Homo sapiens: one gene and its partners. The protein of the gene in region 4 interacts with the protein of the main gene of each other region in a pairwise test. Each region holds a gene or a part of one and is shown on either strand. Other genes may lie near its edges.

The links.
Region 1: the proteins of DESI1 (region 4) and RPS27A interact in binary tests that used the Homo sapiens proteins (3 or more experiments, as listed by UniProt).
Region 2: the proteins of DESI1 (region 4) and PRR5 interact in binary tests that used the Homo sapiens proteins (3 or more experiments, as listed by UniProt).
Region 3: the proteins of DESI1 (region 4) and TAS2R41 interact in binary tests that used the Homo sapiens proteins (3 or more experiments, as listed by UniProt).

Annotation. Positions count from the first base shown.
Region 1 is NC_000002.12:55,228,086-55,235,690, reverse strand, and holds the start of RPS27A (ubiquitin-ribosomal protein eS31 fusion protein precursor), read right to left. Parts: upstream 3,004-7,605; 5' UTR 2,983-3,003; exon of another isoform or gene 2,884-2,982; 5' UTR 2,867-2,883; coding exon 2,819-2,866; intron 2,329-2,818; coding exon 2,274-2,328; intron 1,573-2,273; coding exon 1,487-1,572; intron 861-1,486; coding exon 729-860; intron 264-728; coding exon 114-263; 3' UTR 1-113.
Region 2 is NC_000022.11:44,726,184-44,733,209, reverse strand, and holds part of PRR5 (proline-rich protein 5), read right to left. Parts: intron 6,634-7,026; coding exon 6,576-6,633; intron 1,481-6,575; coding exon 1,389-1,480; intron 960-1,388; coding exon 819-959; intron 1-818. Other genes in the region: PRR5-ARHGAP8 fusion protein, read right to left, coding at 6,576-6,633. UniProt on the Homo sapiens protein: Associated subunit of mTORC2, which regulates cell growth and survival in response to hormonal signals. mTORC2 is activated by growth factors, but, in contrast to mTORC1, seems to be nutrient-insensitive. mTORC2 seems to function upstream of Rho GTPases to regulate the actin cytoskeleton, probably by activating one or more Rho-type guanine nucleotide exchange factors.
Region 3 is NC_000007.14:143,473,861-143,479,297, reverse strand, and holds TAS2R41 (taste receptor type 2 member 41), read right to left. Parts: upstream 1,426-5,437; coding exon 502-1,425; downstream 1-501.
Region 4 is NC_000022.11:41,618,018-41,626,037, forward strand, and holds the start of DESI1 (desumoylating isopeptidase 1), read right to left. Parts: upstream 3,027-8,020; 5' UTR 2,823-3,026; coding exon 2,735-2,822; intron 1-2,734. Other genes in the region: XRCC6 (X-ray repair cross-complementing protein 6), read left to right, coding at 3,988-4,069. UniProt on the Homo sapiens protein: Protease which deconjugates SUMO1, SUMO2 and SUMO3 from some substrate proteins. Has isopeptidase but not SUMO-processing activity. Desumoylates ZBTB46. Collaborates with UBQLN4 in the export of ubiquitinated proteins from the nucleus to the cytoplasm.

The DNA of each region.
Region 1 (7,605 bases), on a different chromosome or scaffold from region 4:
CACTACTAAAAGGAAATGGTGTGACCATCAATTTGGTGCTTAAAAACCATTCTTTTTACTGCAATAAAACCCAACAATAAATGTTAGTTCATGTCTTTTATTAACTCATACAGTTACTTGTCTTCTGGTTTGTTGAAACAGTAAGTCAGACAACATTTGCCACAATAATGTCTGTCAAAGTGACTTGCCATAAACACCCCAGCACCACATTCATCAGAAGGGCACTCTCGACGAAGGCGACTAATTTTGCCATTCTCATCCACCTGAAAAGCACAAACCTGCTGTTAAGATAATTTTACAACACATTCTGAAGTCTAATTTAAGTGACTCAAAATATTTAAGCTTTTAACTGTGTAATACTGGTGGTTTTGGTGCTTACAAACCAAAGCACCCTAAATTCTCACCAGTTATCATTGCTACAATGAAAACATTCAGAAGTCTTGGGACTTTTGAACACTAAAGGCCAGCTTTGCAAGTGGTAGACAAAGGTAAAGACCTGAACCCAAACCCGACTTTAAACTCAGAACCCTATTACATAACTGATTTCAAATACCAAACAGGAAAAACCCCAGAAAGTCTGAATTTCTCATTTCCAGAATACCTCATTTAAACCAAAGTGGGATAATATTGGGTGTTTAAGTCCAAGAAAATATTGACAAGTACTATAAAGATTAAGTTTTCCAAATAAGCCAAGACTTTGCTGACATTCTGCCCTTTAACTGGCTCACCTTATAATATTTCAGGACAGCCAGCTTAACCTTCTTTCTCTTGTGCTTATTCTTCTTGGGAGTGGTGTAAGACTTCTTCTTCCTTTTCTTAGCACCACCACGAAGTCTCAACACAAGATGAAGAGTAGACTCCTGTTAATGGAAGAATGAAGCAAGCTTTCATGATTCCACTAAGAATGGGCACACCCAACATTATGCATTTTCTAATTAAAAGCAGTAGCAGCACACAATAACATTTGAGGGAATCTTGCAGCCCCCAAACCCAATAAAGTATCAGATTCTTAACTGACAGTTTATAGGGACATTAAAGAATGCATTACATTACACCATGGGATACAACTTGCAAAATTCATAATGGGAGAACTATAGCAGTGCTTCTCAAGTATCAGTATAGGAGTTACCTAAAAATCTACTGCTATTCGAATGCCATTTTCCCTTTTTGTGTGTCAAAATGTCCAGAATACACCACATGGAGTGGCTCACGTCTGTAATCCCAGCGCTGGGAGGCCACGGTGGGAAGATCACTTATGCCCAGGAGTTTGAGACCAGCCTGGGCATGGTGGCGGGTGCCTATAGTTCCAACTACAGGAGGCTGAGGTGGGAGGACCACCTGAGTCTGAGAGGTGGAGGTTGCAGTGACTGCGCCACTCACTCCACCCTAGGTGACAGAGTCAGAGCCTGTCTCAAAAAAAGTAAAATAAAAAATTTCCAAAATAACATTTTTTTTTTAAAAGAGGCTGCTCTTCCCCTAGACAGACCTTTTGAATATTGTAGTCAGACAAAGTACGTCCATCTTCCAGCTGCTTGCCAGCAAAGATCAGTCTCTGCTGATCAGGAGGAATTCCTAATGACAAAAAACAAAAATTAAGTCACAGCACACCAAGCCTGTGATGTGCTCCAGACTTATAAGGTAACACCCCTTAATCAAATACATGATACTAAAGGCTGACAATAAGCCCTTACTAGAGGTTAGGCATGGTTCTAAATCTTTACATGTCACATTTTACCGCATTTAATATTAGGGACAATACTTGGTTGTCTGCAGTGGCTGACACCTGTAATACCAATACTTTGGGAGGTCGAGGTGGGCAGATCACTTGATGTGAAAAGTTCAAAACCAGCCTGGCCAACAAGGTAAAACCCAGTCTCTACTAAAAATACAATAAATTAGCCAGGCATGGTGGTGCACGCCTGTAATCCCCACTAATAGGGAGGCTGAAGCACAAAAATCACTTGAACCCGGGAGGCGGAGGCTGCAGTAAGCCGGGACAAGCGAATGCACTCCAGCCTGGGCGACAGAGGAGACTCCATCTCACACAAAATAAATAAATAAGTGTCCAAATTCACGCAAGTGAAATACACCTCAAGGATTCCAATCTAGGTACTGTGCTCCCCGATCACCAATGTCTATTGTGTTATTCCACAAGTATTTCGCTTTGTCAATCTGACCCCTTCCCCCATCACCAAGAGCAGGTATGTCTAGCACCTACAGGTAGGCCGAAGTCTCCGCAGGTTAAGTTTTCTTAACTACAAAATACTACTTGCCTTCCTTATCCTGGATCTTGGCCTTTACATTTTCTATCGTATCCGAGGGTTCAACCTATGAGTGTTAAAGTGAAAGCATGTTGGTTACACATTAAGGAACTACAGCAGAACTCATTTAGTTTGACAATTACCACTGAACCGAACCAGCGACAGGGCTGAGACCTACTCGAGAGACCTATTACCCACCCAGTGGGCAACCTCCCAAGTCGGCTACCGGAAAGCACCTTCATCTCCCCAGCCCAGAGCGGGCGGCGGCCGCAGGGCCACACGTGCTCGCACCCGGCGGGCAGAGCGTCTCCTTCCCCACCGCAGCTCCTCCGTTTTAACTAACTAGCTGGAACCCCTCGAGAGGAGACAGGTCCAGCCTTTGGCCACCGAAAATCACCTCTAGGTCGTTGCTCAGCAAAAGGTACTCATTTCAAAGCTTAAGTTTTAGAACCCAAATTCGGAATCATGGTCTAAGACATGGAAAGCAGCGCCGGTCCTAAAATCCACCTCAGGACCTTATTCGGACCTTGGCTTCCTCATGACCACCCGGCCCGTACCTCGAGGGTGATGGTCTTCCCCGTAAGGGTTTTCACGAAAATCTGCATTTTGGTGGCGGCTCCACCTGAGGTTGAGGAAAAGGAAGAGACAGGTTAGGTCAGGGATCACAAGAGAAGGCACCATAGGGTGCTAACCCGAGAGCAGCCGAAGTGCAGACACCCACCGCAGATGGCGGATCGAAAAGGAAGAACGCCGCGCAGGCCCACGGGGTTTCCCGGAGCTCCCGCCGAAGGACCCACCCCTTAGGCGACCACACCAAATGCCTGACTGCCGTCCCAGCGACAATCCAACCCGGTGCCAGACTAGGACGTGAACTTCGTTTCTCCTCTCCCTAGCCTGGGCTTATTTCTCACTTTAGCCTTCGGAATGCTTTCGAAACTGTAGGTTTAAGCAACGTAAAAGATGTTTTAAAAAGGCTTTTCCCGTACAATCAACGTGGCTAAGAGAATTTTTAAAAGGAGGTCGAGGGGGGCCTCTTGGGGAAGAGGTAGGAAATGGAAGTGCATTCTGGGAACTGTAGTTCTCCACTGCTTTCTTCTACCTTGGACTACTTGTCCCAAGATGCAGTTCCACCTCCCAGATTCCCTAGTTACTATCTCTAAGCACTGAAGTCGGTGTTTGGAGAAAAGGACTCAGGTGAGGACTGGAGGTAGGATGAAGCGGAATAATGGTTTCCGGAGCGTGGGAACGGGCCGGAAGTGACTAGAGCAAATGTTAAGCGGGGGGCAAAGGGTGCGGGGCACGAAAGGTGTCCTTCACTCACTTCCAGAAGCGGTGATGGGCAGAGAATCAGCAATCTACCAGACGCTCCTTGGGCCTTCAAGGGAAGGGAATTTGCGTGGCCTGCTCCAGGCAAACTGAAAAATAGGTGAAATCTGCGGAAGCGGGGGTTCAGCCCTTTCTCTCCTGTAGCGCCTCCCTGCTTTCAACCGCCGAGTCTCTCCCAGCCTAGGGAAGAGTCTGGGTCTTGTGTGTCACTCCTTAGTGTGACACGCTTTAATATGTTGAAAAATCTCAGGAGTTTTCAAATTTTAAAGTGAAGCCGTACGGAAAAGAAACCTGCAGAATGGTTATTTAGTTGTAGAATTTCCAAATTTGGGCATTGGGAGTCTTGGATCTGAGAGGAAGTTTTTGGAGTATGTATGGGGTGCTTCTTCCGGCAAGGAGGCCAATTAGAAGCAAGTTCTCCCTGTCCTTTCTCCACTCCACAAACCAGAGTCCTTTCTAATGTCTTCTGTATTTATTTCTTCATCCTCTGCCCTCTGCGACCCCATCCCCAAATTCAGACCTTAATTTTCTCTTGTAGGGGTTCCGAATCTAACTCCTTATCTCTCTCCAGTCTTTCCTCCTTTCTAACCCACCTTCACTATTGCCTCCAAAATATTCATTCTGAAAGGTAAATGTGTGTTATTATTTTATACCTCACCTTCAGGATACAATTCAAATTTCTTAGAATGACATTCAGCCTCTGCCTTCCTTACAACCTAATCTGCTAAACCCATTACTCTACATTTTAGTAAATGAAGCTAATTTAATTTCCTGACCTATGCCCTCCCGTGTTTTGGCATTTCTGAAGAATCCAGTCGTTTATTCTTCCTGGAACTTTTTTTTTTTTTTTTCGTGAGACGGAATTTCGCTCTGTTGCCCAGGCTGGAGTGCAGTGGCGCGGTCTCGGCTCACTGTAAACTCCGCCTCCCAGGTTCAAGCAATTCTTCTGCCTCAGCCTCCCGAGTAGCTGGGATTACAGGCGCCCACCACCACACCCGGCTAATTTTTGTATTTTTAGTAGAGATGGGGTTTCACCATGTTGGCCAGGCTGTTCTCTAGCTCCTGACCTCAAATGATCCATCCTCCTTGGCCTCCCAAAGTGGTGAGATTACAGGCGTGAGCCACCACGCCCTGCCTCCTGGAACATTTTTCATCCCCTAGTCCGCCAACTAGTCTCTACAACAAAATTTCCTAGAGTTGCTTGTACATATTGTCTCTAATCTTTCCCTTCCGTTGTCTGAACCCACTCCTGTCAGGCTTTTGTCCCCACCATTCTGATCGGATAGCTCTTGTAATGGTCACTAATGACCTCCATGTTGCTAAATTCAATGGTCATTTCATCTTATTTGATCTGTCAGCAGTATTTGACACAGTTGCTCATTCCATCTCTCTTTGAAAACCTTTCAAAGACTTCACCTCTCAGTTTTTCTGCCACCCTGGAGGCTCTTTTCCAGGCTCATTTGCTGCTTCCTCTTGATCTGCAAGACCTCTAACCATGGAGTATCCCCAAGGCCCAGTCCTTGGACCTCTGCTTTGTCTGCATTTTCTTGGTTATCTCATTTTTGTTTAATAACTTTTAAAGTATCATCATATGCAAATGACTCATAAACTTATCTGTCAGACCAGATATGTCACAGATATGTCACAACTTCATCTTCACATATCCAGCTATCTACTCAACATCTCTAATGGACAGGCCCCAAACACTTAATCTCATGAAATTGCTCTTCCCATGTTTATATATGGCAATTCCCATTTCTCCAGTCACTAAGGCCAAAAACTTTATGATTATCCTTGACTGTTCTTTTATATCCCACATCTTATCTACCTTGGCAGATCTTGGCTTTATTTTCAAAATATATGCAGAACACTTCCTACCACCTCCATTGTTAGCACCCTGATTCAAGCCACCATCATCTTTTGCCTTGATTATTGCAGTAGCTTCGTAACAGCACTTCCAGCTTTGACCCTTGCGTCCTATAATCTGTTTTCCACAGAGCAACAAGAACAATTCTTTTTTTTCTTTTTTTTGAGATGGAGTTTCGCTGTTGTTGCCCAGGCTGGAGTGCAATGGCACAATCTTGGCTCACCGCAAACTCTGCTTCCCGGGTTAGGTGATTCTCCTGCCTCAGCCTCTCCAGTAGCTGGGATTACAGGCATGCGCCACCACGCCCAGCTAATTTTGTATTTTTAGCAGAGACAGGGTTTTTCCATGTTGGTCAGGCTGGTCTGGAACTCCCGACGTCAGGTGATCTGCCCGCCTTGGCCTCCCAGAGTGCTGGGATTACAGGCATGAGCCACCATGCCTGGCCAAGAACAATTCTTTAAAATGTTAAGTCAGCTCTCCCACTCTTCTGCACACAGGCCTCTAAAGGCTTCGAATCTCACTCAGAGGAAAGCCTAAATTCTTACAAGTGAGGCTGTTGCTCCAGTGCTGGAACAAGTAGAGGCCACAGTCCAGTGTTGCTCCTCTTGCCAAGTCTGCCCAGAGAAAGGGACCTCTTTTTCTAAACCGCACAAAGGTACCCCCTAGGCTGATAGTAGTTCTGCCCTCAAGACCCTACATGCTACATAATCTGGCAGTTACCTCTCTGATCTCATCTCTTCTCTCCCTTTCTCATTCTCTTCTAGCCCCACGGGCCCTCTAGCTGTTCCTCAAATGTGTTGTCCCACCCTGAGGCCTTTGGACTGGCTACTCTCTTTGCCTCAACCACTCATCTCCCAGGAATCTACATGACCTGCTATTTTCAGATTTCTGAAATGTCACCTTATCAGTAAGCTCTTTTGTCTTTCCTGACTTACTGCCCTTATAGAAAATGGTATCCTCCCACCTTCCTTACTCTCTATCCCCCATACCTTGTTTTATTTTTCTTCATACAACTTAACCCCTATCTGTCATACTATATTTCTATATATATATAATTTTTTTCTTTCTTTTTTTTTTTTTTTTTTTGAGACAGAATCTCCCTCTGTCGCCCAGGCTGGATTGCAGTGGTATGATCTTAGCCCACTGCAACCTCCACCTCTCTGGTCCAAATGATTCTCATACCTCAGCCACCTAAGTAGCTGGGATTATAGGTGTGAGCCCCTGCGCCCAGCTAATTTTTATATTCTTTAATAGAGACTGGGTTTTGCCATGTTGGCCAGACTGATCTCAAACTCCTAACCTCAAGTGATCCACCTGCCTCGGCTTTCCAAAGTGCTGGGATTACAGGCATGAGCCGCTGTGCCTGGACTATTTTTTTTCTTGTGTGTTGTCTGTTTCTACATGAATGTAACCTTTGTGAGATTAGGGACTTTGTTTTGTTCAATACTGTGTCTCCATTGTCTAGAATAATGGCAGACAAACAATAGGTGTCCCCCAAATATTGAATAAATAAATGTAGCACAACTTAAGCATTGCCCTAGATTTTGTTTTACTAGATGTTTTCCCTAATGTTTCCTTGCCCCCTTCCGTAGGCTGATGAGATGCCCCTCTGGCCTTCTGTAGCCTATTGTGCTTACCTCTGTCACACTGCCTTTTCTGCTTTGTAGCAGTGGCTCATTTACTAGACCTGGAACACTTGACTGGGAACCCTTGTGACTTGTCAACACATCCCTAAATGTCTAATATGAATGAATGAATGAATGAATGGTAATCTTGGTTGGTTTATGTAACTCAATGGCATTTTGTAGATGTTAAGGAACAATCCCTTTAGCTGTGTTCTGGTTTGAGAGCACCACAAGTCCAATGTCTTATGAATAGACTAGATTATTGTTCAGTGATTATTGATTATTCAGCAAACATATGTTTGAGTACTGCTCTGCTAGAAACTGCATTATGCACTTGAATGCATATGGTAGAGGAGGGATGATGGGGAAAGAGAACATTTTGTTTCCTGATCTTGTCACGCTTACAGCCTAACAGATGAGACAGAATATAAACAGGAAGTCTCTAAGGCAGTGTGGTGGAAGGATAATACCATGATGGAGGAAGTGCACAGTATTATGGGAGAACATAGCAGTGGCATCTGACCAA
Region 2 (7,026 bases), 3.1 Mb from region 4:
TGGATGCCACTGGGGGCCCCACTCCTTTCTGGGGCAGGCACCTCTCCCCACCTGCTGTGAGGGGGGCTAACAGCTCTCAGAGTGTCTTCCCCAGAGCTGACCCACTGACAAAAGCCCTCTGGGCAGAAATGACTGGGACACTGTGTGTATGTGTGCGTGCATGCAAGTATGTGTGTAGTGTGTATGTGCATGTGCACGTGTGTAGTATGTGTGCGCGCACATGTATGTGTGTAGTGTGTATGCGTGTGCACGCGTATGTGTGCACACGTGTGTAGTATGTGCGTGCGCACGTGTGTAGTGTGTATGCGTGTGCACGTGTGTGGTGTGTGTGTGCAGTGTGTAGTATGTGCGTGTGCACGTGTGTGCACGTGTGTAGTATGTGCGTGCACACGTGTAGTGTGTATGCGTGTGCACATGTAGTATGTGCGTGCACACAGGCATGTGTGTAGCGTGTGCGTGCACACGTGTGTGGTGTGTATGCATGTGCACGTGCATACTATGTGCGTGTGCACAAGTATGTGTGTAGTGTGTATGTGCGTGTGCGTGCTGGGGGTGGGCACAGCCCCAGGCTGGCCGACACAGGGTGTAAAGGCCCAGCCCTGTGCCCAAGAGGAACGGGTCTGCAGCTTGAGCTCTCCTGCACCCACAGCTCTGACCAGCTGCTCCCCGGTCCCTGGCCCTGACAGGCTTCTCCTCTGATCGGGCCCTTCCTTAAGTCTCGTGCCCCTAAATCCTCATCTCATGCTCTGCCTGTGGGGACCTGAGCCCAATTACTGCCCCACGGTCCCCATGCCCGACCCTCTGCCCACTGTGCCCACCTGCAGCACCAGCAGCATCTGCACGATGGCAGGGGGCACACGGGCATGGGCCCGGGCCAGCGCATCCTCTAGCTTCACACTGAGGGTGATGGCATTCCGGAAGTGCAGCAGGGCCAGCTGGCGCACCGATGGCTCCTTGCCCTGTGGACGGAAGGCACCCCACCCCACCGGCTGTGGTCACATGCGTCCTCATCTCCCCTCTCCCGGTCCTGGGACCCCACAGGGGGAAGAGACCTGCCGACCCTCAGGCCCCTCCACCCCGTTCTCCTCAGATGACCCCGTCCCAAGGATAGAGGGCCCCTTCAGTTTCCTCTGGCAGTGAAAGGGTTACTGTCACAGAGCCCCTACGCTGTGCCTCGCTGCTGGGGGATTCACAGGGAGGGAGGCGTCCATATCTGCAGCTTGAAGGGGTGGAAACAGGCTCTGAGCAACTCAGGTAGCCCAAGGAGAGCAGCACAGAGCAGAGCAGGTGTGTGTGTCCCCAAGCCTGGCGGCCCCCCTCTGTAGAGTGAGGCCAGGGTGGGCACAGCAGGGGCACTGGGCTTCCCTCCCCAGGGCTGGGCTGCCCACCTGCACCGGGTAGAAGATGGCCTGCAGCATGGGCAGCACGTCACTGAAGAAGAAGTCCCAGGTCTCTGCCAGTGAGTCCAGCAGCTTCTGTCCTGTGGGCATGGGGGCCATCACCACTGGGCCTGACTGGCGCGGGCAGATGCCTCCACTCACCCAGGATGGGTCATCAGAGGATGCGGGAGTGGAGGGCCTGGGCTCAGGCCCCTGGCAGCACCTGCCCAAGGTCGATGTCCAGCTCCACAGCTCAGCTGTTCTATGGCCCTGGGCCCACTGCTTAACCTCAGTCTTCCATTTATAAAATGTGGCAGTAAAGGGATTGGCCTCCCAGAGCTGAGGGCATGAAATGAGCCTAAGGCACAGGGAACTTGGCTCAGGGTCTGCTCCTGGCAGATGACAGCTGCCAATTCCCAGGCCTTTGTCACATACCAGACCCACACAAGTGAGAGCCACACAGGTATACACCTGGCACAGGTGAGACGTTCACAGGTGAGACCCCTACACGTACGCCTGACACAGGTGAGACCCGCACAGGTAGGTACACTCGGCACAGGTGAGACCTGCATCAGGAGACCTGCACAGGTAAGACCCACACAGGTACACCTGGCACAGGTGAGACCTACACAGGTGAGACCCACGCAGGTATGCCTGGCACAAGTGAGACCCACACAGGTGTGCCTGGCACAGCAGTTTCAACTCACATCCTAGTCTCATCAGATCCTCCTAACAACCCGGCTAAGCAGTTGATTTCTTCTACCCACCGACCTCCTCCCTCCTTCCCCCACACTATCTGCCCCTCCAACAAACACAGAACACCTACTGTGTGCTGGCGCTGATGCTGGGCACTGGGGACCCAGCTGAGCCCCAAACAGCTGCCCATCCATCACATGACAGGGAAGTGGGACACTGAGCAGGATCATAAGGGCAGTAGCCAGGGGTGATCGACCCCCCACCAAGCAGACAGAGGCTGAGCCTCCGAGGAAAGGGTGCACCACAGTCAGTGGCCCAGAGGACCCAGGGCCAGGCCAGCTCTGCCTGTGGTCAGGTCTGGGGATCCACGGAGACCCCTTCCAATAGCAGCACCACGTCGAAGGAAGAAGAGGGTGCAGAGGGTCAGGCAGGGAGGGCTTCCTGGAGGAAGAGCATCCAAGCTGGCTATAGGAGCTGGGCTTGCCAGACGTAGTGGTATGGGGACACATCTTGACAGGTGAGTCTCTGAAACAGATACGTAGGTAGCAGACATCGGGACCAGCTCTGTAGGATTTCTGCTGGCCTTGAGAGGAACGGTGCCATGCACCAGGTGAGTGACCCTTGTGGGACGGGGACAGCTGCCCAAGCTGGCTCTGGGTTCCAGTGGGAGAGGCAACGTGAAGAACCCTTGGCCTTTCTGCCTGGACTGAGCGGAGCTGGGATGAGGGCTGCTGGGTCCAGGGATGCACAGTCCAAGGACGTGTCCCCAAGGCCTCTGCTGTCCCCTGGAAGCCAGACGAACAACTGGCGAGAGAGATCTTGGTGTGGGCGCCTCTGAGTGAAGAGGGAAGCGTTGCCGGCTGTCTCTCAGGCTGCGCCCCCGGCCAGAACTGCTTTGAGGTTTCCATGGGAATGCGGAGGCTGAACAGGGACCTTTGCCTTTTTCTCACTCTCTGGGCCCTGCCCCCACTCCCGGAAGCCCCCAGCTTCATGTAGGTTCGAGGGCACTAGGAGTGGGACCCCGCCAGGGGCAGCCCTGGGGGCTGGGGCCGAGCTGGACTGGGTCCCATCTTTGGCTCCCAGCCCAGTGGCCAGCCCTCTGCCCACCCGGGTAGCCCAAACCTGGCTCTGAGGGTGATGGGGGCCAGCAGGAATGCCCCGGACGGATGGATGCTCACCGCCCCGCCGAACTGTGCCCACACACAAAGTCCCTTCAGTCCCCCTCCGCCGCGGCAGGAAGAAAGGCAGCTCAGTTCCCGGGCTGGCCGGGGGGTGGCTCTGGGCACCGGCCAGGCCTGCGTTCTGCTCAGCGCAGGCTGTTCTCCAGCCCACGGGGCGGAAATGCTGCGGAAAGCAGATGTTGTAAAACAGAATCCAGGCCCCAGCTGGAGCCACACGGTGACGAGAGGCCAGGAAGGGCAGCCTCGCGGCTGTTGGGGCTCTCTGCCGGGGCCTGTCCTGTGGGGGCCCCTCTGTGGGGCAGTAGGGTTAGTCGGAGGCAGGTATGGGGCGACCCCAGGAAGTTCCTCCAGGCGGACTCAGTGGCATCCTCTATGAAAGGGGCGTGATACACGTCCCCACGTGGGCAGGTCGAAAGCTGAGATGAAACAGCACTGGGCGTTTGCTGCCGGCAGGACGGGGCCGGGTGTGTGCGCGCCGTACCTTGGCTCCAGCCTGGCAGTAGCAGGGGCTGATGCAGGCGAGCGGCCCCGCAGTAGCCTTGGCTCCGTGCTGGCTCCCACTCTGGGGTTCTCGCTGTGGGCGCAGGCTGGTGTCCGTCTTTCCTTTCTTTATCCGAGTGCTGAGGGCCCTGTGCAGGCCCTGCAAACCAACAACCCTGTTTCAGCCCGTCGGGAGACTCAGGAACAGTGAGGAGCGCAGGGCAGTGACAAAAGCCACGCGCTGGGTGGACCAGGTCAAGGGTGTCTGGCGCGGGGACGGCCGAGGCACAGGCATGGAGGCAAGCGTGTAAGGCAGCACAGCTGGGTCACGTGACCCATACCGGGTTTGGATTCCCTGGTGGATGAGCGACGGCAGATCCCAGGGCCCAGCAGAGGACCAGGAGCTCCCGCCCAGAGTTCCCAAGTTTCTGGCTTCCAAGGAGTTGCTTGGCTGCAGCTGGAGCCGATTCCCTTAAGCCACACACAGGCCATCAAACTACAACCCCGGCCGCGGTCCAGTCTTCCTCCCCTTCCTAGGGAGGCAGCCCTCCACCTCAAGGCCACTCCTCCAGGCTCTCCGCTTCCAGGACCGGCTCTGCCCAGGGGCTGAAGTCCAAGGCCTCCCTGGAGGCTGAGAAGGGGCAGGGGGCAAGGTCCTGGGGCTTCCCCACAGGGGGCCATCACCCACCTCTGGTAGAGGCTCTGTAGGGACAGCTGCAAGGAGCAGGCTCAAAGTGAAGAGCTCCCAGTGGAACCCAAGCAGGGGTAGGGAGCAGGAAGGGGGAGGCCCCTGAGGCCGCCCATCAGGATGTGGAGGTGGCTATGTCCCCACTGCATGGGGCCAAAAGGGACCACAAGTTCCCCTGAACAGACCACACTTTGAGGCCCTACTCAAGGGCCACTGCCTCCATGCAGCCCTCTCTGACTGCCAAGGTGGAATGAACCCTTTCTTCCCCAGGACACTCCTTCACAATGACATTAATCACACTCAACTGTCACCCTCGGGTCCGTGTCTGTGTCCCCAATTGGGCTGTGAGTCCCTGAAGGGCAGGGCCAGGTTCTCCTCCATCTCTGGGCTCCCAGAGGTCACCTGGGCCTGACATGTAGAGAACACTCAAGTGGACAGAGCCTGTTCAACCCCACATTGCTAAGACAGGGGTGCTGAGGCTGGAGAGGAAACCCTGTGTCTGCAGCTACATGGGAACTGGAGGCCAGGGCCTCAGACTCCCAGCGTAGAGCCCAGTGCCTGTCCCTGAGACCTGGGGAGGCCAGGAAGGGCTGGCGAGGCAGAAGAGGATGCTGGGCCTCCCAGGGCTGTCCTCTGCCCCTTCTGCTGGGCAGGCACCCCTGCTGGGAGGCCTGGCAGACCTGGCTGTCCCACGCAGAGCTCCTTTCAAGCCACACAAAACTCCCTTCTCCGAGAGCCCCGGCTCCCCTAGGCCAGATCTGGTGGGAGGTACAGGCACCGCCAGAATGTGCCGCATCAAGCGAGGGGCGTGGGTGGCCATCTTCGTCAGGTGCCAAATGCTCACAGCTCTGTCCTGCCAGTCTAGATGTTGCCTCCTCCAGGAAGCCTTCCCAGAACCCCCATGTCTCCCCGACGGTCTGATGGTTTTCATGGCCTCTCTTTGTGTTCCTGTCTTGGCTGGCCCCACCCAACATGTTCAGTGGACGTGAGGAAGGACCATGACACGCAGCTCCAAGGTCCCCTGGAACATGCCAGGCCTCCGGGCCTGTGTCCTTCTCTGTGGAGTGGGCTAGTAGCTCTTTTTCCCAGGGTCAGAGGGAGACCTGGAGGAGGAGCCTGGGGCAGCAGAGTGAAGAGTATGGGTTCGGGACCCGGTGGCCTGCTTGGCACCCTGGCCTTGCCACGGTGCAGCTGTGTGGCCTGGGCAGGACACCGTGCCTCACTTTCCCCATTCATTCAGTGCTAACAACGGTGGCTTCTTCACAGGGTTGTGGAAATCAAATGAGTTAGTAGATGTGAAACACTCGGGGCAGTCCAGCACGGAGGGACGCACACACCCGGTGCCTAGTGCACAGGTGCTCAACACACGGGTACAGCGCAGGCCCGATCCCAGCACAGCCCGAGCAAAGCAGCATCCGTGGGAACTGAGTGGACCCCCTCACCTGACCCCGCTCCCAGGGCAGCTCGCTCCTGCAAGGATGCGCACGCTGCTGCTGCTGCCCGAGGCTCTCGGCCACGGGAAGCCCAACCTGCACAGTGAGGCCAGCGGGGACCTCCGGGCCGTGAGAAGGGCAAAGGGTGTGTGCCCTAAAGTCAGGCAGACCTGGGTTTGAGTCCCGCCCCCACCCCTGATGTGCACTGTAGCCTTGGGCAAATCACTTATCATCACTGTACTCTCCCACTCAGGAACAATAACCTGAAGGTCCCAGTGGGTGGCTGTGAGCCTCGACAGAGAAAATTCAGCTGAGTCCCCCACCCTGTCCCCTCCTCTGTGAGTATCGGTGACCTCAGCCCTAACCGACTTCTCCTCTGACCCCCAAAGACCAGGACAGGGGCTCTCCCAGGCTGCGGGGACAGAGCTCACTAGGGCCAGAAAGTCCCGTGGGCAGGGAGGGGAAGCAGGGGGCTTTTCCCCGATGTCTCATAGCCCTCCTGGGCTCCAGCAAGTTCGGGGGGCAGACCCTCTCCCAGGGTTCCCTCTGGGTAAGGATCTCGGCCCTGCTGCCCTAAGGCTATACGTGTTCCTTCCAAGCCCTCCGGACCAGAGAGCCACACCTTGCACCCAGAGGCCCCCAGCACGAGGCCCAGCAGTCCAGCAGCCAGCCAGGACCCAGCATGGCCCAGAGTGGCCGCCAAGGGGCCCACACTCACCCTCATAGAAGCGAATCTTGTCCCGAAGGATCACCATGCCTTTTGTCAGCAGCTGGTTCTGAAGGTAAACACAGAGGGGCTGTCACCGCCCTTGTGGATGCCCGGGGGTGTCCTGGCCAGCAGGGCCCCCGAGAGTCCATCCACCAGTGAGCAGCCAAGGCTTAAAGGGGGAGGAGACTCACTGAGGTCCCACAGTCCACCTGCTGCAGGGCCTGAGCATCAGTTCATCCAGGAGGGTAACTGACCCAACCCCGGGTTGTCACGAGACAGGAGGTGGTCACACGGACATCCCGAGAGGTGGGCAGGGCCTAGAGCTCCTTGCACTGGGCTCAGCTGGGCAGGCAGAAGCCTGGCATGTCCCACAGTGAAGAAAGGACTTTGCATCAAGAGGTGACTCTGATTACCAAAGGCCGGGCCCGTCAGCTGCCATCCTACCTCAGGGACCCTGGAC
Region 3 (5,437 bases), on a different chromosome or scaffold from region 4:
AACTCACAGCCCAGGCCACTGCCTGCCACAACTGCCTGTCCCTTGGGGCTCTCGTAGTAACCATGACATTTGTCCTCAAGAAGGCTGTCGCTTCACTATCCACATCTCAGTTCAGCCATAGAGGCAAATATTTGCTCTTAACTTTCTGAAAGGCAGTGGAGATGCGATGGCACAGTTAATCAACACTTTTAATCGAAGCCTTCCAGATAACAAAGGGGTACAAACGTAAGGAGTAGCACGACATCATATTAACATATTCTGAACTTCTGGGCAATACTGGCTCTCTGGGATCCATGGGACTGCATCTTTATAACATTCCAAAGAAGGGAAGCATGCTCAGAGAGTTCCCAGATTTCCTTGTCTCCTCCGCTTCCCAGAGGAGGAGCCCCATAACAGTACCCAGTATTCATCTACCTATGAAAACACCTCCATGTCAGTGGGCCACAGCTCTGCCATCCTCACCTTTCTTTTCCGGGGGTCTAGATAAGGAAACCATGCCATCTAGGCCACCCAGAAGCCCCTTGCCAACAACAGGAGCTGCGAGAACACGCTTCGAAGCTTGAGGTTGCTGAAGATGAGGATGAAGGGATGGACAGATATGCACAGGTAGACTGCAATTTGCCATGGCCAGTAAAAGTCGTTCTGCATGGAGATAAATTTTGCGGCATCAATGATCAGGGACAGAAAGGACAGAGCATAAAGAATGAGGAAGGAGATGAGGGACTTCAGAGCTCTGGTGTGAGCCTGGGTGCTGGGGTCCTGCAGGCTGTGCCCGTTGTGCTGCATTCTCTGAGTATGCCTCCTCAGAGAATTAATTAACAGCATAATTGAGACCAGAAAAACAGAAAAAGGAATTGACCAGATGACCAGTTTCAGGGATGGGAAATAGTATGTTTCTATCCTTGTATTCCACTTGTAGGTCATGTTCCCAGAAAATTTTCTAATTAAAAATTCTTGATATACAGGGTAGTTCACCCAAAAAAACAGCAGGGTTATGATGAAGGAGATCAGGACAGAGCCCAACAGGAGCCAGGGCACCCACCCTGGGAACCTCCACTTCAGCCACAGGAAGGTGGAGTGTGTGATGTTAGCAATCTTCACACAGAACAGGACACTGAGCCAGCTGCAAAACCAGAAGGTGGCTGAGTTCAGGAAGTGCCAGTGTAGATGGAAGAACTGTCGGCCGAGACCCCCAGAGTACTCGACCTTCTGGGCAGAGTAGTAGAAGTTGTGCACCGTCCCAACCAACTGCAGGCAGAAGCGGGAGGCACCCAAGCTAATGAGGATCATATCCAAGGGCAGCAACCTGCCATATCGCAGCCACTCCCTGCCCAGCACCAGCACAATGAAGCCATTCGCTGCAATCCCCAGAAGACTCAGCAGGCTAAAGAGCAACACGAAGAAGGCCGTCAGTGCTGCTTGCATTCTGACCCCTCCTGCAGTCCCCACTTGAGTGCCTTGGTCCCTGGCCTCCTCCCTGCCCCTAGCCACAGTCCTGTTTTTAATCTTTCCTAGGAGTGCTAAAGAGTGGTCAGGCTCTGCATCTGAACCAGAGCTCACTTAGAGAGGAGGATGCTCAGGCTAAAGAGGAGAGGTGTGCTCTTGGCTCAGACAGGATGCAAATTTATCCTAGTGTCAGTTACCACTAGGCCTGCAAATTACCCTAATTTGCCTTGTCCAGTTTTCCTGCATGCTGCCATGGTTAGTATCAATGTCTATGATTTTTCTGGGTCTCTGTGACTGAGTTCCATCCTCAGGCCGTATGAACACTCCTCTTCCCATCAGAACATTCTTAAGACTTTAAATATAGAGACAAGTATAGGAGATACACAGGAAAAATAGTGACATCAAAGAATTCTGTCTCAGTACTTCCCTGTTACACATCCATGCTTACCTTACTGCCTTTGCCCACAAATCGCTTCAAAATCAAACACTTCGTCTACCTCTCCATCCAGATCTCTACTTAGATCCTCCATGAATCCTGAGATGTAAATGATAATGGTGTAAACGGGTTTTGTATTTCCAGTGAGAGAATTCATTATCATGTGGTTGAGGGGCCTTCCGAAGCAGGACTGAGAGCCCCTGTTTCTTCCTGGGTGTTGGTGGGAGACTGCTCTCTGGTCCTAGAGGCCTCTCACAGTCTCTGCCAGGTAAGCTGTTTCAGCATGGCCACTCACGTCAAGTCAGCAGTCTCTAAAGGGAGTCTGCTAACAAGATGGGGTCTTAAATAACATAACACAATCATTGGAGTGACAGCCTATCACCTTTGCCATAGTCTATTGGCTAGAAGCAAGTCACTGTCACCAACAACACTCAAAAGAAGGAGGTTACACAAAGGCCCAACACCAGGGTTGAGGGACAGGCAGGGCCACTTTACAGTCTGTCTGCCACCCTGAGATACCCGAGGCATATGTGAGTCCTGTCTAACACCAACATCAAAAAGAAGTCCCTATGAGACCATGTTGAAAGTAAAAATATTTTCTTTTAAAATATATCTATCACCTCACATAATTCCTGTTTTCAATTTCTTCATGTGTAGTGAGAACACTTAAGATCTACCCTCTCATGAAAGTTCAAGTATACAGTGCAGTATTGTTTACTATACTCATACTACCATACCTTAGGTTTCCAAAGCATGTTCACTTAGCATAACTGAAACTTCATACCCCTTGACCAATATCTCCCCATTTCCCCTTCCAGAACCCTGGCAACCACCAATCTACTCTCTACTTCTGTGGGTTTGTTTTTTCAGATTCCACATGTAAGTGAGATCGTACAATATATGTATTTCTGTCTCTGGAGCATTTCACATAGCATAATGTCCTCCAGTTCCATCTACGTTGTTGCAAATGGCAGAATCGCCTTTTCTAAGACTGAATCATATTCCATTGTGTATGCACACCACATTTTCTTTGTTCATTCATCTGTTAATGGGCTTTTAGATTGTTTCCATGTCTTGGCTATTGTGAATAATTTTCAATGAACATGGGAGTGCAGATATCTCTTCAAAATACTAGTTTCATTTCCTTTGCATATACACCTAAAAGTGGAATTACTGGATAAGGTAGGTCTGTTTTTAATTTTCTGAGAAATCTTTATAGTGTTTTCCATAATTTATATTCCTGTCAACAGACTGAAAGAGCTGCTTTTCTCTGTATTTTTGCCAACACTTGTTATCCTTCATCTTTTTGGTAACAGCCATTCTAACACATGTAAGATGATACCTCATTGTGGTTTTGATTTGCATTTCTCAGGTGATTTGTGATATTAAACATATTTTCATGAACGATTTTTGTCTTCTTTTGAGAGATGTTATTCAGGTCCTTTGCCCATTTTAAAATCAGGTTATTTATGTTTTTTGTTTATTTCTGCACTACAGTTGAATAAGTTCCTTGTATTTTTATTATTTGTATTTATTTATTTCAGACGGGGTCTCACTCTGCCACCCAGGCTGGAGCGCAGTGGCACCATTACAGCTCACTGGAGCCTCAAGGTAGGAAGGATGATCCAATCTTCCCCACCTCAGCCTTCCAGGTATCTGGGACTAAAGGCATGCACTGCCACACCCGGTTAATTTTTTTTATTTTTTGTACAGACAGAGTCTCACTATGTTGCTCAGGCTAGTCTCAAACTACTGGGCTCATGCAATCTTTCTGCCTTGGCCTCCCAAAATGTCAAGATTACAGGCGTGAGCCAGGGCACCCAGCCAAAGTTCCTTATATATTTTGGAAATTAACACCTATTAGATATGTTGTTTACAAATATTTTCTCCCAATTTCCATTCTGCTGGTTGTTTTCTTGGCTTTGCAGCTTTTTATTTTGATGCAATCCCATTTGTCTATGTTTATTTAGCTGAATTTTTGCCTGTGCTTTAGGTGTAGTTTTCTATAAGTCATTACCCAAACCAGTGTCAAGAAGCTCTTTTCCTATGTGTCCTTCTAAGAGTTTTATGATTTCAGGTCTTGCATTTAAATATTTAATCTATTTTGATTTAACTTTGCATGTAGTGTAAGAAGAGGATGAAATTTCATTCTTCTGCATGTGGATACCCAGTTTTCCCAACCTCATTTATTGAGGAGACTATCTTTTCCCCATTGTGTATTCTTGGCACTTTGTCAAAAATCAATTGACCACAGAAGTGTAGTTTTATACACGGGCTTTCAATCCTACTCCATTGGTCAATGTGTCTGTTTTTTTGCCAGAACCATGCTGTTTTGATTGCTATCATTTTGTAATATATTTTGAAATACAGTAGTGTGATACATACAGCTGTGTTCTTTTTGGTCAAGATGGCTTTAGTTATTCAGGGTCCTTTGTGATTCCACATGAATTTTAGGATTTTCTTTCTATTTCTGTGAAGAGTGACATTGGAATTTTTATAGAAGTTACATGAAATCTGTAGATTTGGATAATTTGGATATTTTGACAATATTTATTTTTCCATTCCATGAACATAAGATATCTTTCCATTTATTTGTGTCCTCTTCAATTTCTTTCATCAGTGTTTTATGTTTTATGCTCTTTTCCTACTTCCTTGAGGTGTAAAATTAGGTTGTTTATTTGAGATCTTTCTTCTTTTAATGTATTTATCACTACAAATTTCCCTCTAGTACTGCATTCCTATAAGTGCTGGTATGTAGTGTTTTTGTTTTCATTTGTCTTGAAATCCTTCTCAAATTACCTTTTGATTCTTTGATTCAATGATTATTCAAAATGTGTTTAGTTTCCATGTATTTCTGAATGTTTTTGTTGTCTTACTGTTAATGACTTCTAGTTTAATTTTTGTGGTCAGACCAGATAGTTGGAATAATTTCAATCTCCTTAAATGTGTTAAGGCTTATTTTGTGACCTAGGACGGGATCTATCCTGGAGAATGTTGCATGTGCCCTTGAGAAGAATGGGTGTTCTGCTGCTATTGGGTGAAAAGGTCCACTTAGTCTGCAGTGTTGTTCGGGTAAACTGCTTATTCATTTTTGTCTGAATGTTCTATTCATTATGTTAAGTCAGTTATTGAAGTCTCCTACTATTATTATATTGCTGTCAATATTGTCTGAACTGTCAATATTTGTTTTGTATATTTATATATTCTCAAGTTGGGCACATATATTTTTATCATTGTCTTATCTTCCTGTTGAGTTGGCCCTTTTATTATTATGTAATGACTTATTTGTCTCTAGAGACAGTTTTTTAGTTAAATTCTATTTTGTTGGGTATAACTACTCCTGATTTCTTTTGTTTACTATTTGCATGAAAATCTTTTCTATCCCTTCAGTTTCATCTTACGTGTGTCTTAAAGTGATCTCTTACAGACAGCATATCTCTGGATCTTGTTGTTTTTAATTTATTTGCCACTCTTTGCCTTTCGATTGGGTAGTTTAATCCATTTTTATTTAAAGTAATTATTGGTAGCTGAGGACCCTTTTGCAATAATATCAAA
Region 4 (8,020 bases):
TCATCCTAAATTCCCACTTTCAAAGTCACTACCCTTGATACCCTTATTTAAAATAGGTCTCTTCACTGGGTGCAGTGGCTCATGCCTGTAATCCTAGCACTTTGGGAGGCTGAGGCGGGCGGATCACTTGAGGTCAGGAGTTCAAGACCAGCCTGGCAAACATGGTGAAACCCTGTCTCTACTAAAAATATAAAAATCAGCCAGGTGTGGTGGCATGCGCCTGTAATCCCAGCTACTCTGGAGGCTGAGGCAGGAGAATCACTTGAACCTGGGAGGCAGAGGTTGCAGTGAGCTGAGATCACCCCACTGCACTCCAGCCTGGGCAACAGAGCAAGACTCGTCTAAAAAAAAAAAAAAGGTCTCTCTTGTTATTTTCTATCACAGCACCCAGTGTGCTTCCTGTGCAGAAGGCACTTATGCAATTTGTAACTAATTATTTATGTATTTATTTTTAATGTCTCCCCCATTAGATAGCTCCATGATGGCAAAGAACATCTTTGTTCATTATATCAACCTCATTTACCTTAACACGTTGACTAGCATAGAGCAGACGCTCAATAAACATCTGCTGAATGAATGAAATAATGACTCCTAAGGCTCCTTTCAGCTGCCCAATAATTATTAGGTAATAGGATAAAAAATACCCAGTGTAAAGGGGGAGGTTTTACGTGGGGTATAGGAAATATCTGATTCCTCACTATGATAAAAAAACAAACAACTAAATGGCTCCATTCCAAGAAGTTTAGTTAAAACTTGACTGATGTGGGCTGGGCATGGTGGCTGACGCCTGTAATCCCAGCACGTTGGGAGGCCAAGGCAGGCGGATCACAAGGTGAGGAGATCGAGACCATCCTGGCTAACACAGTGAAACCCCGTCTATACTAAAAATACAAAAAATTAGCCGGCTGTGGTGGCGGGCGCCTGTAGTCCCAGCTACTCGGGAGGCTGAGGCAGGAGAATGGCGTGAACCCGGGAGGCGGAGCTTGCAGTGAGCCTAGATCGTGCCACTGCACTCCAGCATGGGTGACAGAGCGAGACTCCGTCTCAAAAAAAAAAACCAACAAAAAAAAAACACTTGACTGATGTAATCTATTAATGAGTAACAGCTTCCTCAGTGACTTTGTAAGTTTTGCTTTCAGATGTGCCTCAATCATTTTAACAACTGGTTATCTAGGCCCAAATCCCTGTCAAATAATGGGTTGGCTACATAAGAATTAGCTGATAAGCTCATTAAAAATACAGATTTTTGGACCAAAACTCCAGGAGATTCTGATTTAGTATTTGTGAAGCCTTAGAATCCATATAATTAAAATTTTCTCATTTTAAATAGATATTATGTGTATGTAATACACAGGTCCAGAGGTAAGAAACAGTTTACAGCAAAGTTTCTCTTCTACCCCTGTTCCCCTGGCATCAAGTTCCCCTTTCCATAAGCTACTGCTGTTATCAATTTCTTGTGTATCCTTACGGATAATTATTTGCCTAAGCAAGCACATATATATCCTTTGATTTGCATATTTAAAGAGCTATTCTAACCTTGTTTTTTCTAATCTCATTTACAATATATGTTGGAAATGAGGGTATCTGCATTTTTAACAAGCACCCTAGATGATTTTGATGTGAAGCCAAATATAGAAACAACTCATGGACCCACGGTTGTGAGATTAAGTTCAATTCACTACGACATATTAGAAACTCAAGGACATTGAAGGATGCCCTCAAAAGTAGCCTCCCTTACTTGATCTCTGCCCCCTCGTCTCACAGAGATGAACTAAATCATTCGCCAGTGTCTCCACAGAAGCCAGGAAAAACTAGCCATTCAAATGGATGCTGTCAAAGCTTCAATTTTCAATAATTGGAATTCTTTCCTGCTCATTGTTACCCGAAATTACAAACCTGACAATTCCTGTGTTACACAAGACATTCCTGTATTTAAGTTGAAATAAGGTGTGATCGTCACTGAATGAGGGCTGGTTTTTCTCCTGCCAGTTAAGTAGTTTAATGGAGCACAACCGAAATACTTTCTTTACTAATCCTTATTCACACAGCCTCATCCAAACTTCCCCCAAAACTGCTTTCTTGCCATTTGAGCAAAAGCAATTAACTTAGAAACTGTGGGGAGAAGACTGCTTGGTGAATTCTGGAGTTCGGGGCTCCTCTTATCCTGACTTGACCTACCTGGGGGCGATGGCTGGGTCCCTAGGCAGCTCTATCTCCCCCATCCCACCTATCCCTGGGACTGCAAAGGGAGCTTCCTTTTGGCACTGAGACAAGGTTCTCCGAGAGCCACCCGACCTCCGCAGTGTCTCTGTCACCACGAGGGGCACCGCGCGGCAGGCATCCTCACCTTTCCTACACCGCGCCAAGGAGGCAGGAGTGCACTGGGCTACCCGAGCGAGGCAGAGAACCCGCCGGGATCCAGCGCTGGTTTACCCCACACCCTCGTCGAAGGGGCTCTCGAGGGCTCGGTTTCTGCCCAAGCCCCCTGCAAGGTGGAGGCATGACTCCTCCATCCCTTCCCCTTGAATTCAAACGTGAGGATGGTATCTGCGAGGCTAAAGCGGGGCTCAGATGGCCCAAACTTCAGACCACTCTCTTCTCCACTCGGCTTTTCTTCCATCCTCCTGGCCATGTGTCTCCCCGTGAGTCGTGGCCCAAGTCTCCCCACCTCGGCCAGCCGCCACCCTCTGGCCTGGCTCCCGCCCTCCTGCCCACCTGGCCCCTTCCCCCTCACCCAGCATGATGGGGCTGAGCCGCCGGGCCAGGCCTTTGGACAGGTCGTACACGTAGAGCTTCACCGGATAGAGATTCGGCGGCTCCATTGGGACCCGTGGCGACGGCGGCCACGACGGCCCTCGGGCACCCGGCAGCGGCTTGGACCTTCCCGTACCCGACGGGAGTGCGAAGCGGAGGGAGAGGGGGGGACCGAGCCCGGGCCCGGGCTGAGGGGTGGGGGAGAGGCCGCCCTGCGCTGCTCGCGCCCCCACACCCGCTACCGGCAACGACTACTGTGAGGTGACAGAGAGGGGACAGGGAGGGCCCACACGGAAGAGGGGGCGGGGGCAGGGATGCACTTTTGCGCATGTGCTTACAGTCCTGACGTAGGAAGGGGCGGGGCTTTGCCGAAGGGGGCGGGGCTCTCGCTGATGGGTTGGCTTTCGTCAGGGACATAGGTAGAAGCTGGTTGGGGAGTGTGCGTGCCAGCCTGACGCGATATAGTGCGCACATGCGTGATGACGTAGAGGGCGTTGATTGGGACCGAGTACAGGGCCCGCGCATGCGTGGATTGTCGTCTTCTGTCCAAGTTGGTCGCTTCCCTGCGCCAAAGGTAAGCGGGCCGTTATCCATTTGTGTTGTTCGCCAGCTAGGCCTGGCCTCGTCCCGCTTCGCTCGGTCGGTCTCGCGCGCCCCCATAGCCTTGCTAGAGGGTTAGCGTTAGCCTTAAGTGTGCGAATCCGAGGAGCAGCGACAGACTCGAGACCACGCTCCTTCCTCGGGAAGGAGGCGGCACCTCGCGTTTGAGGCCCGCCTGCGTTTGAGGCCCGCCTGCGCTTGCGGCCCGCCTGCGCTTGAGGCCTGTCTGCGTTTGAGATCTCATTGGGCGTGATTGAGGAATTTGGGGAGGTTTTTGGGCGGTATTGAGGACGAGGGGGTCCGTTAGTCAGCATAGAATCCTGGAGCGGGAATCCCTCACCGTCTAAATGGCGTCGGGGGCGGGACCTCCGGGATCTGGCTTCCGCGGGCCGCCGCCGGCCCTGAAACGTGAGGGATAGCTGAGATGAGGCAGCTACTGGGATGGCCCCCATGCGCATTTACATGCAGTCCGACTGCCGAGCTTTCGAGGCAGCAGGATTTACCGTCCACATTCCTCACTACTAACCAAGCTTTTAGAACAGATCTCACAAGAACCTAGAGGTCGGTATTTTTTCGATTTAAATTTGCCTGTTACTGACGTTAACGTCTTTCGCCTAGTGAGCAGTAGCCAACATGTCAGGGTGGGAGTCATATTACAAAACCGAGGGCGATGAAGAAGCAGAGGAAGAACAAGAAGAGAACCTTGAAGCAAGTGGTAAGTGACTTCAGCATGTAGTGCCATTCGGTGTGTGGAAGAAAGACCTTCCCTGCCTATCTCTGCTGGATGGACTTTGCTGTTTGATGGCCTGCCCTTCTCCTCCCAGATAATTCTGAAATTCTTTTCTTCCTTTGAACTTCGCAGAGCTACCCTAGGCTCTTATATGCAGATCTTACTCTAGTGTGCCCTAAGTTTTTTTTGGACACTGGTAGTTTGACATCTTTTGGTCCCTGATAAATGGCCATGACCATAGGTATTTTTTGTCATCTTAAGTGGTTCAGGTGAGACCCTTCTCATCCAGGAAAGTAGTGTTACCATTCCAGGACCTCAGTGTAAAAATGCCCCCACCCTGCAATAACTACACCAACCAAAGAATAAACGCAAGCAACACAGTTACAGGAAAGTGATTGATTCCCTCACTATAGCCTCCACGTTTGGGAGTGTATGTGCAGGCAACACAGTAACACATAAAACAAAGGAAGAGAAATAGGGGTACATGTAATCTTCATACTGGTTAATTTAACTCCTGAGCAGAAAAATTTTGAATATTTTTATTAAAAATGAGAAACGGCCAGGCGCGGTGTCTCAAGCCTGTAATCCCAGCACTTTGGGAGGCCGAGGCGGGCGGATCACGATGTCAGGAGATCAAGACCATCCTGGTTAACACGGTGAAACCCCGTCTGTACTAAAAAAAAAATACAAAAAATTAGCCGGGCGTGGTGGCGGTCGCCTGTAGTCCCAGCTGCTCGGGAGGCTGAGGCAGGAGAATGGTGCGAACCTGGGAGGTGGAGCTTGCAGTGAGCCGAGATGGCGCCACTGCATTCCAGCCTGGGTGACAGAATGAGACTCTCTCAGGAAAAAAAAAAAAGTGAGAAACATAGGAAATACAAAAAAGAAAAAAATTTGCTATAATCTACCACTCTAACACAACCACTACCAGCATTTTGACATTTTTGTATTTTTCTTTCAAGTATCTTTCAATATTTATTTCCTAATGAAATATATATATTTTTTAATTTTTTAATAGAGACAGGCTGGAGTGCAGTGGTGAGATCATCGTAGCTCACTGTAACCTCAAACTCCCGGGCTCAAGTGATCCTCCTGCTTCAGCTACCTCAGTAGCTGGGACTACAAGTGCCGCCAACTCCCAATAATTTCTTAATTTTTTGTAGAGACAGGATCTTGCTATGTTGATCAGGCTGGTCTCAAACTCTTGGCCTCAAGCGATACCCCCAAGCCTTGGCCTCCCAAAGTTCTAGGTTTATAGTCATGAGCCTCCATGCCCAGACTGTATCTGATTTCTTTTTCTTTTTTTTTGGAGACAGTCTTGCTCTGTCGCCCAGGCTGGAGTGCAGTGGCGCGATCTTGGCTCACTGCAAGCTCCGCCTCCCGGGTTCATGCCATTCTCCTGCCTCAGCCTCCCGAGTAGCTGGGACCATAGGCGCCCACCACCACGCCCGGCCAGTTTTTTGTATTTTTAGTAGAGACGGGGTTTCACTGTGTTAGCCAGGATGGTCTTGATCTCCTGACCTTGTGATCCGCCCTACTCAGCATCCCAAAGTGCTGGGATTACAAGTGTGAGCCACTGCGCCTGGCCTATCTGATTTCTTGTATTGTAACGATAGTGCATATACATTTATTTATTTATTGAGACAGAGTCTTGCTCTGTCGCCCAGGCTGGAGTGCACTGACTCAATCTCGGTTCACTGCAACCTCCGCCACCCCAGTTCAGGCTATTCTCCCATCTCAGCCTCCCAAGCAGCTGGGATGACAGGCGTGTGCGCCACCACACTCGGCTAATTTTTGTATTTTTAGTAGAGGCAGTGTTTCACCATGTTGGCCAGGCTGGTCTTGAACTCCTGGCCTTAGGTGATTCACCCACCTCGGCCTCCCAAAGTGCTGGAATTACAGGTGTGAGCCACTGTGCGTGGCCTATAGCTCATTTTAAATATACCATAATTTGGCCGGGTGTGGTGGCTCACACTTGTAATCTCAATAAATATACTGTAATTTGTCTGGGTGTGGTGGCTCACGCCTGTAATCCCAACACTTTGGGAGGCTGAGGCGGGCAGATCACTTGAGGTCAGGAGTTCGAGACCACCCTGGCCAACATGGCAAAACCCCATCTCTACTAAAAAATACAAAAGTTAGCTGAGTCTGTGGTGGCATGCACTTGTAGTCTCAGCTGCTTGGGAGGCTGAGGCACGAGAATTGCTTGAACCGGGGAGGCAGAGGCTACAGTGAGCTGAGATTGCAACACTGCACTCCAGTCTGGGCAACAGAGTGAAACTCTATCTCAAAAAAAATAAAATAGGGGCCGGGCGCGGTGGCTCACCTCTATAATCCCAGTACTTTGGGAGGCCGAGGCAGGTGGATCACAAGGTCGGGAGATAGAGACCATCCTGACTAACATGGTGAAACCCCGTCTCTACTAAAAAAATACAAAAAATTAGCCAGGCGTGGTGGCAGGCGCCTGTAGTCCCAGCTACTCTGGAGGCTGAGGCAGGAGAATGGCGTGAACCCGGGAGGCAGAGCTTGCAGTGAGCTGAGATTGCATCACTGCACTCCAGCCTGGGCGACAGAGTGAGACTCTGTCTCAAAAAAATAATAATAAAATAAAAAATAAGGCCGGGCGCGGTGGCTCACACCTGTAATCCCAGCACTTTGAGAGGCCGAGGCGGGTGGCTCACGAGGTCAGGACATCGAGACCATCCTGGCAAACACGGTGAAACCCTGTGTCTACTAAAAATACAAAAAAATAGCCAGGCGTGGTGGCAGGCGCTTGTAGTCCCAGCTACTCGGGAGGCTGAGGCAGGAGAATGGCGTGAACCCGGGAGGCGGAGCTTGTAGTGAGCCGAGATTGCGCCACTGCTCTCCAGCCTGGGCGACAGAGCGAGACTCCGTCTCAAAAATAAAATAAAATAAAATAAAATAGGTCAGGCACGGTGGCTCATGCCTGTAATCCCAGCATTTTTGGAGGCCAAGGTGGGCAGATCACCTGAGGTCAGGAGTTCAAGACCAGCCTGGCCAACATGGTGAGATCCTGTCTCTACTAAAAATACAAAATAAGCCAGGCGTGGTAGCGCATGCCTGTAATCCTGCTACTCAGGAGGCTGAGGCGGGAGAATCGCTTGAACACGGGAGGTGGAGGTTGCGGTGAGCCAAGATCGCGTCATCGCATGTTTAAGGTTCTTGACACACATTGCCATTTTGTTCTCCAGGAGACAGCTAATTAAACTTATTAAGAAGCAGCAGGCCATGCACAGTGGCTCACGGCTGTAATCTCAGCACTTTGGGAGTAGGAGGCTGAGGCAGGCTATCACCTGAGGTCGGGAGTTTGAGACCAGCCTGACCAACATGATGAAACCCCATGTCTACTAAATACAGAAAATTTGCTGGGCATAGTGGCACATGCCCGTAATCCCAGCTACTTGGAGATGACCAGACATTATATACCTTTTTAGGAAAAAATATGTTACTTATGATAAAGTCATGCTGAAGAAAGAAAACCTGAATCAGATTAAGCCTCTCTAGGTCCTTAGTAGGAAGGACAGAGGACTCTGTTAATCTACACCAAAAGAGGTCAATCGGCAGGCCAGGCAAGGTGGCTCATGCCTGTAATCCCAATACTTTGGGAGGCCACGGCAGAGGATCGCTCAAGCCCAGAAGTTCAAGGCTGCAGTGAGCTATGATTGCGCCACTGCATTCCAGCCTGTGTGAGAGAACAAGACTGTTTCTAAAATAATTAATTCAATAATTTTATTTTTTTATTTGAGATGGAATCTCTGTCGCCAGGCTGGAGTGCAGTGACTAATCTCGGCTCGCTGCAATCTCTGCCTCCCAAGTTCAAGTGATTCTCCTGCCTCAGCCTCCCTAGTAGCTGGAATTATAGGCATGCGCCACCACACACAGCTAATTTTTTGTATTTTTAGTAGAGATGGCGTTTCA